2 linked regions of the Homo sapiens genome follow. The protein of the gene in region 1 interacts with the protein of each later gene in a biochemical or structural test. Each region holds a gene or a part of one and is shown on either strand. Other genes may lie near its edges. The genes, in order: DNAJB12 and FBXO7.

The links.
Region 2: of the proteins of DNAJB12 (region 1) and FBXO7, one has a biochemical effect on the other in vitro, tested with the Homo sapiens proteins (one large-scale study listed by BioGRID).

What each region holds. Positions count from the first base shown.
Region 1 is NC_000010.11:72,341,251-72,345,066, forward strand, and holds part of DNAJB12 (dnaJ homolog subfamily B member 12), read right to left. Parts: coding exon 3,700-3,816; intron 2,262-3,699; coding exon 2,116-2,261; intron 1-2,115. UniProt on the Homo sapiens protein: Acts as a co-chaperone with HSPA8/Hsc70; required to promote protein folding and trafficking, prevent aggregation of client proteins, and promote unfolded proteins to endoplasmic reticulum-associated degradation (ERAD) pathway.
Region 2 is NC_000022.11:32,484,811-32,488,626, reverse strand, and holds part of FBXO7 (F-box only protein 7), read right to left. Parts: intron 3,560-3,816; coding exon 3,418-3,559; intron 883-3,417; coding exon 799-882; intron 1-798. UniProt on the Homo sapiens protein: Substrate recognition component of a SCF (SKP1-CUL1-F-box protein) E3 ubiquitin-protein ligase complex which mediates the ubiquitination and subsequent proteasomal degradation of target proteins and plays a role in several biological processes such as cell cycle, cell proliferation, or maintenance of chromosome stability.

The sequences.
Region 1 (3,816 bases):
TCTCAGGTACTCAAGCAGTGCTTTAGGAAGCAGACGTCCTTGGGGTGGGCAGGAAGCTTGGCCAGTGTAAGGAGGGGGCATGCAGGAAGACCCCTCAGTGGATCTGGGCAGCCTGGCTGGGTGGAGGGTAACACAGGCTCCTTGTTCTCCTCAAGACAATGGTCAAGCTTTGTCAATGTGCCAGGCCTCCTAGGAGTGTGGCCTCATTTACTTCTTTTTGTTTGTTTATTTTATTTTTTGAGGCAGGGCCTCACTCTGTCACCCAAGCTGAGTGCAGTGGAGCAACCGTGGCTCACTGCAGTCTCAACTTCCTTTGCTCAAGCGATCCTCCCACCTCAGCCTCCTGAGTAGCTGGGACTACAGGCGTGAACCACCACACTCAGCTAATTTTTTGTATTTTTTGTAGAGATGAGGTCTTGCCAAGTTGCCCAGGCTGGTCTCAAACTCCTGGGCTCAAGGGATCCTCCCACCTTGGCCTCCCAAAGTGCTGGGATTATAGACATAAGCCACCACACCAGGTCAACTCATTTACCTCTAAGAGCAACCCTATCTCCATTTCACCAATGAGAAAACTGAGGCTCAGAGAAGTGACTGCCTAAGCTTACACAGCTTTAATATGTTACAGAGCTGGGAGTCAAACAAAAGCAGGTGTCTCTTGCTTCAAGTTCTCTCTCCGACTTTATGAAAACCACCAAAAACCTCTTTCCTCATTCTCTCTTGACGTGCCCAATAGGATGGGCATCCCTTTCTGGAGGTTCTGTAAACCTGAAGTCATAGTCTGACATGCAGGCCAGACAGACACACAATATCCTTATTGTGAACTGGAAAGCAGCAGGAGCTGTGGGGAAGGGCCAAATCTCGGGGCTCTATGGAGACTCCTCCACTTCTGGTGATGCAGCTGGGGTGAGTCCCCCACTCTCTGGGGTCCAGGCCCCAACCGTTATTTCCTATCTGGGCCTGGAGCCTCCCACCAGGGCCCCCTAGCCGGGACGGCTGTGCCCTGAAGGACCCCAGCTCTGACCTCCTCAGTCTCTCACTCCCTCTCCTCAAGCTGCCACTGACTCCGAGGAGTGGGTCCAAGCCACATCTGATTCCCATCCTGAAACCCCCGGGAATAAGGAGCGCGGAATCGTCTCCTCCGCCAATTCTGAATAGGCCTCAAGGCCAGAGCTGGCCTCTCGGTACAGTCGGAGCAGGCTGCAGGCAGAGGCTGGGGCTGGAGAAACATTCAACAGGGCTACCTTGCTTCCCCCCACTCCCACTCTCCTCCTCCAGGGCCCCGGGACACTGCACACCAGGTCTCGGAGTCTCCTCTGCCACAGGCTCTCCAGCTGGCTATGGTTGTGGGTGCAGCACAGCACACACCCCGCCCAGGCCAGTGGGGGCTAGTCACCATGCTATTTCCCAAGGAGGTGGATGAAGTGGGAATGAGAGAAGGAAGACATGGTGGGAATGAGAGAAGGCAGTAATGTTTGGGGCAATGAGAAATTGCAGTGCACAGAGTCAGTACACATGAGCGCCTGACAGGTTAAATGAAAATGTAATGAATAAAGGGCAGCTTACGATTTCAGCCAGAAATGAAGCACCCATCCTGAGCCAGTGGGCCCTGAAGCCAGAGACTGCCATGTCCCCACTGCAAGCCCCAGGTGTATAGGTATGGCGGGGGAGCTGGCTGTGGCTGCTGGTATTGAGGTGGCCACCAGGCCTGAGGCCCCCGACCTGGGGCTACCCTGCCCCTCAGCAGGGAAACAGTTACCCCAGTGGGCAGCTATGAGACTCTAAGACAGGGAAGCGCACACGGTGAGTCACTCAATCACTGAGAATCCTTGGAGAAGCTACTAGAACTTTCCTGCCTCAGCTCTACTACGTAACCCCAGGAAATGCAGAGGAAGCAGGGGCAGGAATGGTGCTATCTGAGCTCTGACCAACTCTACATAGCTAGAGGTGGCTACTAGAACCTTTTTCCCAAGAAGCAGCTCCCAAGCCTGGGCAACTTGGGCCCAAGGCCACTTCCTCCTGCTCCCTGCTTCCTGGGAAAGCTGTCTTGGTCCCTTACTCCCTGCCATGGACAGGAGATGAACACACCAAAATGCTAGGAAAGCAGGGCTGGCTTACCTTTGAAGGCTTCAGTGGCACCAGGTGCGTGGTTCTTGTCTGGGTGGAATTTGAGGGCCAGTCTGCGGTAGGCCTTCTTCAGGTCCTCATCCGAGGCCCCTCTGCTCACCCCCAGGATCTCATAGTAATCTTTACATTGCTTGACCCTGGGGAAGGAGGAGACCATGGTACGGGGTGCTCTACATGGGTCTGTGTGAGGGGGGCGATGAACAGGCCGTGTGGGGCGCACAGCTCTGGGCAGGCTGCGGGGGACCAACAGGGCAAGGCTGACAGCTCCTTGGGTCAGCTGTGTGACACCAGGGACAAGGGAGCCAAGTGGGCACCAAATGTGATGCAGAGCTGGGCAGGACCACGGGAAACAGAAGAACACCGTCTGGATTCTTGGATTTAGGAGGGCATCTGTGGGGTTCGCCAGGCCAGTATCTATCTTCCCCATGGGAAGAGCTCAGGAGGACTGTCGGTGTCCATCACCCAGGGTGGTGTCCCAAGCTCAGCCAACCGACTCTCCTGGCAATCTGAGTCTTTTTTTTTTTTTAATTTTTAAAAGTTTTTAAAATGTTAAATATTTAAAGATAGAGACAGGGTCTTCTAATTGCCCAGGCTGGTCTCAAACTCCTGGGCTCAAGGGATCCTCCTGTCTCAGCCCCCCAAAGTGCTAGGATGACAGGCATGAGCCACCATGCTCAGCCCAATCTGAGTCTTGAGTGGGTAACATGAAGGCCAGAAGTGGCAGGTGACTGTTCACCGCAAGCACAGGGCCTAAAGAGACCCTGGTTCTCTTTCACCAATTCTTCCTCTCCGCGTCCCTGGAGACCTCCTGGTTCTTGGCCGTTTCTAGGCCTTCCCAATCCCTCATACATCAGTTTCTATTGCCTACAATGGACCTTGCCGACTCAGTGAAGTACAGATCTCGCCTACACTTTTATGGCAAACAGCAGTCATGCTCAGTCTCACACAGGCGGCCTTGGTCCTGAAGCTTGCCAGGAGCTGTGGCATGACCCTGGGGGATTCCCAAGGCCAGCTGCTGGGAGACCTGGGGAGAAATGGGAGCTGGGAACGTCTAAGCCTGAGGAGCCTTGGCTGGGTGGTCTCTGGCCTGGTAGCGAGCTACTCTGCGTGGGGCCTGCTCACAGCCGTGGGGCAATAACTCTGCCTCTGGTCTCCATTCTACCCCACACAGGCTCTGATCTAAAAGGGTCTTTGTTGGGTGCTGGGATGTGGGTTGGGGTAGAATCTGGAGGGGGAGACAAAGCTCCATCTCTATTGACAAACAGAGCTGTGTAAAGAGGCCTGGGGCCTGCCTGGCCAGCGGCAGAGGAAGCCGGCAGTGTCAGCTTTTCCAGCCTCTGCTGTGGGTCGTGGCGGGAGGGGTGGTGGAGCCCCAGTTCCCACACTGTATTCCTGGGCCTTGAGGGAAATAAGGAGAGGTCCTGGTGAGCCTGGACCCTTGGACCTTCTCCATCCTCCAAGACCCTCCCAGGGCCCTGTGCTGCCCACAGGCAGATGGGAGGTGGAGGACATGCTCCAGGAAGCCTCTAGATTTCCCCAGTCTCCCCAGGCTCCAGCCCCTGCCCACCCATCTACCTTTTCACAGCTGCAACCTGTTCTGCAGTGTAGCCTTTGGTGCTCTCTCCTCCAGCTTCACCGTTGGCCGAGGGGGCATCGGTCCCACCTGCTTTCCTGTGGGTGGCATGGGTTGTG
Region 2 (3,816 bases), on another chromosome or scaffold:
CTAAAGGACTGCTATAAATGCCATCTTCCCATTGTACCACAACATTCCCACTAGGCTCTTAAAACCCTCCTAAGTTTACTAAGAAGATTAAATGGAATAACATATGTACAGGCACAAGTACAGAATGAAACAGGCACTTAAAAAATGTCAGTTCCCCTCTCCACCTTATCTCTTCTGCTCCAACCACCTATAACTGCCTCTCACAGTTTGGTTTAACTGAAAAATGATAAAAGGGAAAACCTGTCTTCTTTGTATCTATTAATAATTTTATAGAGTTTAAGCAAAACCTTACCTAGAATGCAAACCTTTGGTAAAGTATCAATCTGTATAAAATAGCCATCAAATTTATATAGGTTTAAACAAACATTTTGATTGTAGTTTTTCCTCCAATAATCTTCAATAATGAACTTGACATTGAATTACTTTCATGAAACACAGATCCCCTCCATATTGGTTAAATACCAATATGGAGATCTCAATAGGGAGATCTCCAAAGATTAGTACAGAAACTATGAACTATCATCAGAGTGTAATAAATTACATACTAGTGTTATCTCATAACAATATAATTCAGCACACTATGACCCTAAGAAAAACAGGAAAGAAACAAACTCCTCAAATTATAAGCAAAACTTTCACATTTTTTAAACCTTTGCATTCTTAAACAAACCACATTGTCTTCAATATGCTTTAATCTCATATAGAAATTTTCAGTCTTTTGAACATTATCTTTCAGATTTTTTTCTTATATGAATTTCACAGAGTTTCACCCCAAAAGTTAAATAATGTTTGTATTACCTAGTTTCTCTTTGCAAATAAAAGATTCTGGTAGCAGCTGCAATCTTTTCACACTTCTAATCTCATTGTTGATTTTTAGTGTAGCTGTAAATAAACAAAAGAAAGATGATAAAGAATTCTGTCACTTCATCAACTGCCTTTCTTTTTTAGTATGGGCTTGCATTTCCTAGCTCCTAATATACTAAGGACACATTATACAAAACAAACTGTTCTTCGCCTATTTCTTTCTCTGATAGCAAGTTCAAAAGTGTAAACCTGGCATCACATGAAGTAAAATCACTCTACAACACCACCTTTAAAAACTACAGTAAGCATCTTTATATAAAATCCACTAGGCAGCAGCTTATTAGTAACTTAAAGATATGCAACAAGGTTAATCAGAGGCAACTAAACACAATAAAATCATTATTTCTAATGAAGTCACTAAAAACTCCATTTATTTTTTATTTAACCCTTGGCAATGAGTCTTCCTTTGTTCATTAAAATAATCTTGCTAGTTTTCACAGCATCATCTCTCTTCCAGACCCAAAGGATAAATATACTTGACATCACCAGAGGGTTCAATTTTAATCATGTATACAAAGGCGCACTTCATCTCATTCCATGAAAGAGCCCAGTGATGTGCTTATGCACATGTGCACCAAGCAGGATGCCTTGGGTGAAGGAAAGATTTAAAGACACACTGCTCCTTTTCAAAGAATCAATCCTGGAACGGCTGGCTGCCATGCAAGTCTGCCAAGAGCTGATTTGCCAAGAACAGTAAAGAAACAAAACATCAGAAATTAGGAAATCATCAAGACATTCAGCAGTTATTCTTTTTATATTAAGTATCCTGAATCTAGTGAATAGAGGTTATTATACACGTCATTAAGTGCTTTTATAAAAAATCAAGGCAAAATTTGCAACTACACATTTACTATTTGGTAACTCCAACCTTGCAAGTTATGATGTGATGTAGCAGAATGATTAGATGAAGGCAGAAACTGTTGACACTCTGTGTACAAGAATGCCAAAGTAAAAGCTACATTTGCTAATTATGATGAACTGCTGAATAGACATTGCTAGGTCCTAGTGTCATCAGACAGTCATGTCCTGACAAATGTGAAGTACCACCAAAGCTATTAAACCTAGTTTTGAGACTTTTAAATAACATTTCAAAGAATCTTATGACTAAAGAAATAGAAATTTCGTAAGAGGCCAGGCATGGTTCACACCTGTAATCCCAGCACTTTGGGAAGTCAAGGCAGGAATATTGCTTCAAACCCAGGAGTTTGAGACCAGCCTGGGCAACACAGTGACACTTCATCTCTACAAAAAATAAAATAAAAAATAGCCAGGTGTGGTGGTACACGCCTGTGGTCCTAGCTACTCAGGAGGCCAAGGAGGAAGACTGCTTGAGCCTAGGAGGTCAAGGATGCAATGATCCATGCTCTGCCTACTGCACTCCAGCCTGGGCGACAGAGCAAGACCCTGTCTCAAAAAAAAGAAAAAAGAAACTTTGTAAGAGGGGAATGAGAACTATCCAACATGTCAAAGATCAAGATGGCATGAGTCAGTAGCTTTCAAAATAGATTTTAGCAGGAAAAAAAAAAACCAACATTTTTTCAAACAGAATCTTACACAGAACTTCAATAAATGAAACAGATAAACATTTTGCTGCTCAAGGTTTAAGTGGTGATAGGGCTTCTACCTAACTTTCATCTCAGCAGAAAGGAGTAGCTACAGAACATACTGAAAACCTCTGACCTAAACCTTTGACCTAAGGCTTACCAAAGCAACTGCCTTTGCTAAACGAAAAAGATGAGCTATACTGAATAAAAAAACAACAAACGCAGCCCTCCCAATCTTACCACGCTATCTTTCTAACTAAAAGGATAAATCTCAAAAAACAAAACAGAACAAAAATGAAAGCTCCTAGTCATTCAAATGGATCTCCAGTATGTGTGATTATGACAGAACACTAGGAGTTGATATGAAACAAAGTGGTACCTGAACTAAAACACAGAGATGGAATGCATTGCTATTCCAGTGAAATTTCTTAATATGAAAAATAAACAGGAAAAGTTATTCATACAGAGTGACATTTGTTGGGGGAGGCCCAGCAAATAAAACACATACTTACTAAGGCCCCAGTAAACTTAGCATTGTTGTTGTGCATTGCTGGTCACAGGGATGCCAACTTGGATAAATGGTGACCCCAGGTCTAGCTCCCCATGTCTCAGTTCAAGACCTTCGTTAAAAAAATAAAGCCATCCACAGGCATAAAGAAAAAGTATTCTCCAAGGAGTTCATGTGTAATAGGCTCATTTCACTCCTATTATCAAATACTGATAATATTGGATAATATTAAATATTATCCCCCAGAGCAAAATATTACAAAGATTAAGACATCAAAAAAATGGATGCCCTAAGAATGAAGGGTGCTGGCCTAAACAACTCAACAACCTCATATTCCATGATCTTCCAGACACATGTTATCAGTGGCCTAGGAATTAAATACAGTTGAGAAGGACTCACAACTGTATCATGATAGCCAATCACTGAAGTGGCTATAAAACATTTGGAAAGAAACGTCTAAGAATCCATAAACCAGCAACCATGACTATGCTATCCAATTACCATTTACAACAATCAGGTTTCCCAAAGGCACACAGGTGAGAGTAGCGGAGCTGCCCTCGCAGAGAGGATGCATGTACTGCAGCTTATACACCCCGCTCAACTTCCACTTCTCCGGCATGGACAGTGCTTTGGCTTCGGTGCCCTGGGGAACGAAATGAAAGGGAAACAAATAATGAAGAAAGGTGTTACTCTCAAAAAGATTAAAAATCCAAAAGACTCCTAACTTGTTTGAAATAATCACTCCACACAGTCCTCTTAATAAAATGCATCAAATCATTAACATTGCCAATATATTTTATATTGTAGGATAACCATATTGTATAAGATAATATATTAGAACACTTTTAATCAAAATTTTTGTTCAAATAGGTAAAACTGCATCATGGAAACAGGGATTGA